Linked DNA regions of Homo sapiens: regions 1 and 2 are each linked to region 3. The links come from fine-mapping of genetic effects on gene expression. A gene starts in region 3. Each other region holds a variant in brackets. All regions are shown on one strand. Distances are from middle to middle.

The links. PIP is the estimated chance that this variant, and not a neighbour inherited with it, causes the effect.
Region 1: its variant is fine-mapped to the expression of LIMA1 in blood mononuclear cells (TOPMed, PIP 0.97).
Region 2: its variant is fine-mapped to the expression of LIMA1 in whole blood (TOPMed, PIP 0.92).

Annotation. Positions count from the first base shown.
Region 1 is chr12:50,146,735-50,149,234 of GRCh38, forward strand. The region is part of intron 1 of CERS5 (ceramide synthase 5); the gene reads right to left. The region is part of intron 1 of LOC124902931 (a long non-coding RNA gene); the gene reads left to right. Among named protein-coding and RNA genes, the nearest start is that of CERS5, 19 kb to the right of the region's middle. The variant T/A (reference allele first, on the strand shown) is at 1,216.
Region 2 is chr12:50,171,921-50,174,770 of GRCh38, forward strand. No RefSeq gene overlaps it. Among named protein-coding and RNA genes, the nearest start is that of CERS5, 6.0 kb to the left of the region's middle. The variant A/C (reference allele first, on the strand shown) is at 1,297.
Region 3 is chr12:50,281,934-50,284,783 of GRCh38, forward strand. LIMA1 (LIM domain and actin binding 1) reads right to left here and starts at 1,587. Exons shown (of 11, transcript NM_016357.5): 1 at 1,487-1,587. It overlaps LOC107984505 (a long non-coding RNA gene), which reads left to right and starts at 1,688. Exons shown (of 2, transcript XR_001749144.2): 1 at 1,688-1,949. RefSeq lists a silencer at 1,498-1,807.

The DNA.
Region 1 (2,500 bases), 140 kb before region 3:
TACTCGGGAGACTGAGGCGGGAGAATGGCATGAACCCGGGAGGCGGAGCTTGCAGTGAGCCGAGATCGCGCCACTGCACTCCAGCCTGGGCGACAAAGTGAGACTCCGTCTCAAAAAAAAAAAAAAAAAAAGAACATTTGACAAATACTTGTTGATTGTTTATTTTGTGCTACAGAATGAAGCTTTATTATATTTTCCAGATGTGATTGGAAAATAATCTTTTCTAATTTGTGATAAAAATTAAATATATAGATTTAGTTATACACAGTTAATGAATTACCTTACTGAAGAAAGTGAAATTATTTGAAATTATAGCTTTTGAGAAAGTATTAATTCTACATCATACAAAAGGTTGGTATTTGGTATAACTTATAAAACAGGTATCTAGGCCAGGCGCGGTGGCTCATGCCTGTAATCCCAGCACTTTGGGAGGCTGAGGCGGGCGGATCACGAGGTCAGGAGTTCGAGACCAGCCTATCCAACATGGTGAAACCCCATCTCTACTAAAAATACAAAAAGTTAGACAGGCGTGGTGGTGTGTGCCTGTAACCCCAGCTACTCAGGAGGCTGAAGCAGGAGAATTGCTTTTACCCAGGAGGCGGAAATTACAATGAGCTGAGATCACGCCATTGCACTCTCTCTGGCCTGGGTAACAGAGCGAGACTCCATCTCCAAAAAAAAAAAAAAAAAAAATAGGTACCTAGGGTGGTCAATTTCCAGAGCCTGGCATTCATCATTTCTGCTACATCAGCATTTCTCAAAGTGTGGTTTAGAGACCCCTGGGGGATCCAGAGACCCTTTCAGTAGGTCTACAAGGTCAAAACTATCTTCAGAATAATTCTATAATTTCATAAAAATCTATTCTCTCTCATGAGAGTACAGTGGAACTTTCCATAAGTTACATGACATATAACAACAGACTGAATGCAGACGCTGACATGAGACTACAGCTGCCAGATATTTTCAAAAATGTTAAAATGCTACTCTTCTCACAGTTTTTTGTTTTGGAAAATAGTTATTTTTCATAAAACGTAATGAGTTCATTGTTATTTATTTATATTGAGACAGGGTCTCACTCTGCCACCCAGGCTGGAGTGCAGTGGTGTGATCACTGCTCACTGCAGCCTTGACTTCCTAAGCTCAAGTGATCCTCCCACCTCAGCCTCTCAAGTAGCTGGGACTACAGGTGTTGGCCATGCCCAGCTAATTAAAAAA[T/A]TTTTTTTTTTGTAGAGACAGGGTTTCACCATGTTTCCCAGGCCATTGCTATTTTTAAATGAATAAATATGGGCTGGGCACGGTGGCTAATGCCTGTTATCCTAGCACTTTGGGAGACTGAGACAGGTGGATCACTTGAGCCCAGGAGTTTGAGACCAGCCTGGGAAACGTGGTGAAACCCTGTCTCTCCCCAAAACACAAAAGTTAGACAGGTGTGGTAGCTCATGCCTGTGGTCCCAGCAACTTGGGAGGTTGAGGTGGGAGGATCACTTGAGCCTGGGAGGTCGAGGCTGCAGTGGGCTGTGATTGCGCCACTGCACTTCAGCCTGTGTGATAGAGCCAGATCCTGTCTCAAAAATAAATAGGCTGTATGCGGTGGCTCATGCCTGTAATCCCAGCACTTCGGGAGTCTGAGGTGGGCAGACTGCTTGAGCTCAGGAGTTCAAGACCAGGCTGGCCAACATGGTGAAACCCCATCTCTACCAAAAAATACAAAAATTAGCCAGGCATGGCGGCACATACCTGTAGTCCCAGCTGCTCAGGAGGCTGAGGTGAGAGGATCTCTTGAACTCGGGAGACAGAGGTTGCAGTGAGCTGAGATCTCACCACTGCACTCCAGTCTGGGCGACAAAGCAGACTCTGTCTCAATAATAAATAAATAAATAGGCCGGGCGTGGTGACTCAGACTTGTAATACCGGCACTTTGGGAGGTTGAGGCAGGCTGATCACTTGAGGTCAGGAGTTTGAAACCAGCCTGGCCAACATGGCGAAATGCCATCTTCTACTAAAAATACAACAACAAAAAATTAGCCGGGCATGGTCGTGCACACCTGTATTCCCAACTACTCAGGTGGCTAAGGCAGGAGAATTGCTTGAACCCGGGAAGCGAAGGTTGCAGTGAGCCAAGATTGCGCTACTGCACTCCAGTTGGGGTGACGGAGCGAGACTCCATCTCAAAAAAAAAAAAAAAAAAAAAAAATATATATATATATATATATGTGTGTGTGTGTGTGTGTGTGTGCGTGTAGACATTTTATACATGTATAAATACATGTAGAAAACATGTACATTTTCCCCATTTTTTTTCTAAAACAGTAGACATTGATAGGTACTATCCACATAAACAAAAACTCTTTGGGATCCTTGAAAATTTTTTAAGATTGTAAAGGAGTCCTGAGATCATAGTTTGAAAACTGCTGTGCTAGATGATACTGACAAATTATACTTTTAGTGTGGCTTTCTGTCTTCTCCAGGATCAATCCACATTTTAAAATAATTTGTCAGA
Region 2 (2,850 bases), 110 kb before region 3:
ACCCCATCCAGAGAGATTCTGCTTTCATGAGTTTGGGGGTAGGATCTATGAATTTGCATTTCCCATTTCTAACAAACTCATAGGTGATGCCACTGCTGCTGTTCTGTGAACCACTGCCTGAAGCCACTTCCATCCAAACCCAGGAATAGCTTCATGGTAACTACACTATATTAAGATACAGTTTTAAAGGGCTGGGCAGGGTGGCTCGCGCCTGTAATCCCAGCACTTTGGGAGGCTGAGGCAGGCGGATCACCTGAGGTCAGGAGTTCAAGACCAGCCTGGTCAACATGGCAAAAATCCACCTGTACAAAAATATAAAAATTAGCTGGGCATGGTGGCAGGTGCCTGTAGTTCCAGCTACTCGGGAGGCTAAGGCAGGAGAATCGCTTGAACCCGGGAGACGGAGGTTGCAGTGACCCGATTGTGCCACTGCACTCCAGCCTGGGCAACAAATGGAGACTCCATCTCAAAAAAAAAAAAAAAAAAAAAAAGAAAAGATATATTTTAAAAGGAAGTAATAAACCCAGCCCCATGGGATTTTCAATCAGCATCTCAAGGAACAGAGGACATACTAACTTAGCATACAGGAACCACCAGTACACAATGATCTTGGTCTGAGACCCTATTCATGATTTTTTTTTTTTTTTTTTTTTGAGATGGAGTCTTGCTCTGTCACCCAGGCTGGAGTGCAGTGGCGCCATCTCAGCTCACTGCAACCTCTGCCTCCCGGGTTCAAGCAATTCTCCTGCCTCAGCCTCCCAAGTAGCTGGGATTACAGGTGCACGCCACTACATCTGGCTAATTTTTGTATTTTTAGTAGAGACGGGGTTTCGCCGTGTTGGCCAGGCTGGTCTCCAACTCCTGACCTCAGGTGATCTGCCCACCTTGGCCTCCCAAAGTGCTGGGATTACAGGCATGAGCTACTGTGCCTGGCCCCTGTTCATGATTCTATCCCCAGAAAAATGAGCATGTACCAATTCCCAGTCTCTTGGCTGTTGGGAAACATTGCTAATGAAATATGTAATGCAAAGCAAATTTACTTTCACCTTGCCCAAGAGTGATCCAGCAAGTCACTGGAACCAAGCTGGCCTTGTAGCAGTCATGAGCAGAGCCTCCTTAACCATCATAAGTCCCAAGCTGGCCCCTTTTTCTGCTTTACCAACAGAAAAGCTGTCATCACCCTATAGTCACCAGTGATATACCAGGTCCAAACAAGGTAGCCTTCATTTAGAGAGCTAAAAGAACAAATGATTAATGCTTTTTCTGTTTGGCTGCTTTTGTTTTCTAAGAATGTTC[A/C]GTGTTATCTGGTCATTCTTTTGGCTAGGACATCCTTTCTTTATATTGACTCTGGAGCTATTCCTTGTTCCTACTCTGTGTACCCATGATACGTCTATATCTTAGCCCTTGAAAGGCATAGAAAAGAGTTTTTTTGTTTTTTTTTTTAGATGGAGTCTCACTCTGTTGCCTAGGCTGGAGTGCAGTGGTGCAATCTCGGCTCACTGCAGCCTCCACATCCTGGGTTCAAGTGATTCTCCTGCCTCAGCCTCCTGAGTAGCTGGGACTATAGGCACGTACCACCATGCCCAGCTAATTTTTGTATTTTTAGTAGAGATGGGGTTTCACCATGCTGACCAGGCTGGCCTTGAACTCCTGAGCTTGTGATCCACCTACCTCAGCCTCCCAAAGTGCTGGGATTACAGGTGTGAGCCACCGCACCCAGTCAAAAAGAATTCTTCTGAGGGTAATCTCAGTCCCCAAGGGGTGGCCCACTCAACTGATATCCACAGGTACTTAAACTTTTTTGTATAAAGTCAGTGCATAATGTGAGTACCATGTGGATGGATTATAGTAAAACGCAAGTCACAGAAGTTCAAGCCAGGATTGGATATTTTATATCAGTGGGAGCTTTTGGATTAACGTGAATATGGATTTTTTTTTTTTTTTTTTTGAGATGGAGTTTTGCTCTTGTTGCCCAGGCTGGAGTGCAATGGCATGATCTTGGCTCACCGCAACCTTTGCCTTCCAGGTTCAAGCGATTCTCCTGCCTCAGCCTCTCTAGTACCTGGGATTACAGGCACCTGCCACCATGCCCGGCTAATTTTGTATTTTTAGTAGAGACGCGGTTTCTCCATGTTGGTCACGCTGGTCTGGAACTCCCAACCTCAGGTTATCCTCCCGCCTCTGCCTCCCAAAGTGCTGGAATTACAGGCATGAGCCACCACACCCGGCTTTTTATTTTTTTGAGACGGAGTTTCGTCGTTGTTGCGCAGGCTGGAGTGCTATGGTGTGATGTCCGCTCACTGCAACCTCTGCCTCCCGGGTTCAAGCGATTCTCCTGCCTCACCCTCCTGAGTAGCTTGGATTACAGGCATGTGCCACCACGCCCGGCTAATTTTGTATTTTTAGTAGAGATGGGTTTTCTCCATGTTGGCCAGGCTGGTCTCCAACTCCTGACCTCAGGTGATCCGCCCGCCTCGGCCTCCCAAAGTGCTGGGATTACAGGCATGAGCCACTGCGCCCGGTCTGAACATGGATCTTTAAATGACTCAGTGGGGGCAAGAGCAGAAAGTAGTATCCTACCAACCACTCAGAAAACCAGGCAAGACTCTAGAAAACACAGGGATCCTGGAAAATGTAACAGATGACTCAAAAAGCATGCCTTAACTCTCCAAGGAAATCCACATTTCAACCCTACCAATTAAAAAGAAAGCCTGAACAATTGGAACAGTTGCCTCTACAGGCAAGGATATCAATCAATCAAAAATGCATCTGCCCACTTGGTGTGAACAGTGATTTTTTTTTTTGAGACGAAGTCTAGCTCTGTCGCCCAGGCTGGAGTGCGGTGGCGCG
Region 3 (2,850 bases):
GATTTTAAGTTCTTTTAGGGTAAAGACGTTTGGCACTTTGAATCTACAGTAGGACTGACATGAAAGGCACTCAATATTTTGTCCAAAGAATGAAATAAGTTCCTAAACTAATTACCTAGTACATTATATGTTGTTCTATCAATGCAAAACAAGAAAACATATATGAACACACACTTTTTTTTGCCTTCTTTCACGCCAACTCTATAATTTTTTGAAGATCTATCTAAAACGTGATCATCCTGCACCCAGGTTATACCTCTACAGGAACTTAGAACATGTTGTTAGGGGTCATGTTCTTTTGTGTCTACATCATACCTCAGAAGAAAGGATTGGTGTTATTTCATGGCTCCTGAAATATTTAGCATTTGTGAATAGTATTGGTAACCAAGCAGATAAAAGGTACTGTGTTAAACCATTTAAATCAAGAGCAAAAGAAAGAATACTTAATGCAAAAGAAAACCTCTCCCCAAAATGGGCATTGCCTTAAAAACTGATAACTCCCTAATTACCTTTGACTAACCTGAAAAGTCAAGTCAATTGAACCATCTGGATTAGGCAGATCTGGATTAGGCAGACTTATCTTTTATTTTTATTTATTTATTTATTTTTTTGTAGAGACAAGGGTCTCGCTAAGTTGCCTTGGCTGGTCTCAAACACCTGGGCTCAAGCGATCCTCCCGCCTCAGTTTCCCAAAGTGTTGGGATTATAGGCGTGAGCCACTGCGCCCGTCCAAGGCAGACTTTTGAAAGCTGGAATTAGGTGCAAGACAATAGTAGTTCAAATATCTCTCACCAGGATCAGCTAAACCGTTCTTGCAAGCATCAGTAAGGAGGCTAGGAAGGGTGCCAGATGGTTCGTTCCTAGCAGCTACAACTTCAAGCTTTAGTATGTGTAGCCAGGGGTGTACAATTACCTTACATTAACACCAACATATGTCGGGGGCAAGTGCCAGCGATATATACACGATAGCGATTCGGGGATGACACATCGGCTGCAAGGACTGCTATATTCTCAACATTCCTCAAAAGGGTGTAAGTGTCTTAAACAGAGTTCAGCTGGCGTAATGGAAGGGAGAAAAAATCGAAAAGAGAGGGAATGGCTGAAAATGAAGGAAAAAGAACAGTTGAATATTACAGTATTTCCCTGGAAGGAGGGTATTTGGAGTTTTAATGAATTGTCACCTTCCTCCACCACACCAGAAAGTATACAGTTAGAATGCAGTGTTCTCGGTGGGAGAGGACGGGGTATTTGCAGCTCCCGCCCTTGGGCAGCAAAGGCTCAGCCCGACATAAGCACTCCCCACCCAGCGCAGGCCCCAGAAGTGAGGAAAGAACGGAGGATCAGCGTCCCTCGACCCCTTATCTCGAGGGGGAGGGACTCACACTCCTTGCACTCCCCCCGCCCCAAAAGTCGAAGGAGAAAGAGGGTGTGGAGAGAAGCCGGGGTCTTCCCGCACTCTCCGGTTGTGGAGAGAGAAGGCCCTTACCTGGCTAAAAGCCGCCTTTCCTCTGCGCTGCTACCAGCCCTGTCACAGGTCCCGGCGCTCTACCTAGCGCACCTGTCGCGACCAAGCTGCTAACACCTACTGCTCCTGCGGCCCCGCCCCGGACCCCGCCCACCGCCGCGGGGGCGCGCACGCCAGACAGCCTCCCGTGCGGCCTCGGGCTGAGCGTGCGCGCCACCGGCTACGTGCCCAGCGCTCGCGTCTGCTCCAGTCGCTCTGGCGGTGCGGGGCGCTGGCGACGGGACAGGGTTTTTGCTGCCCGGGGCCTAGTCTACCTCGGCACGCTTTTCTCTGAAGGAGACACGCACTTGCACGACGTGGGCCTCTGTGCAGCTCTACTTTGTCCTTAACTCCTCTGACTCAACGTTATCGCAGTTTGACTCTGGAGCCACTCAGGTTTTTCCTAAGCTCAACTCTAGCCAGCTAGGTTCCTGGTGCTTTGGGGGTAAGTTGTGTGCAGGGAGGGTGTTTTACAGGAGGCTGTGTGGTGTAGTGGAAAAAGCTGAATTAAGTACATTAATCCTGAAAACGGTTTGACAAGGGCAGATGACGTCCAAGTTCTCCAACAGCTGTTTTTACTCCTCCATTCAGAATAGGAGCTGTGCTAATGGTTTGGAGACCGTCAATTGGCCTAGCACTTGGCCATCCTGCCCCCAAATTCTTGTCCCAGTTCCGTGCCAGCTGCATGATGCCTTTTGATAGTATCCTTCTTTCCTGTACCTCAAGCATAGTAGGGTTTCAGACCACAAGTTTTCTGAAGCTTTTCGGAATTCATGCAGCTTGATGCGTTATTAGTAGGGGCTGCTCGTGGGAAAACGCTTGTAATTACACTTCCTCAAGAAGTTAATGAAAATGTGTGAGAAGAGAGATTTCCAACAGGTGATGAATATGCCAGCCAGTTATTCCCTTCTTCCTTCAAATATCCAGCCTAGACTGATTTCTGGATAGGTATTGTAGAAATAAAAATTTCAGACAAAACAAACTTAGATTTTGAATCGGACAACAGTCAGAACCAAAAGAGGCTCAGACACCCCTGCTCTAGCTGCCCAGGCATCAAACTTTATAGGCTGAACACGAAAGTAAAGAAATTTGATTGGCTACAGCTAAGCGTTTGCCTTATTTGGGTATGGTCACATGGGAGGTCCCTAATTATATAACCACTTGGCTGGTTGTCTGTTTGTGATTGGTTGAAACTCCATTCAAAATCAGGTACAAGGGGCCGGGCGCGGTGGCTCACACCTGTAATCCCAGCACTTTGGGAGGCTGAGGCAGGCGGATCCCCTGAGGTTAGGAGTTCGAGACCAGCCTAGCCAACATGGCGAAGCACCGTCTCCACTAAAAATACA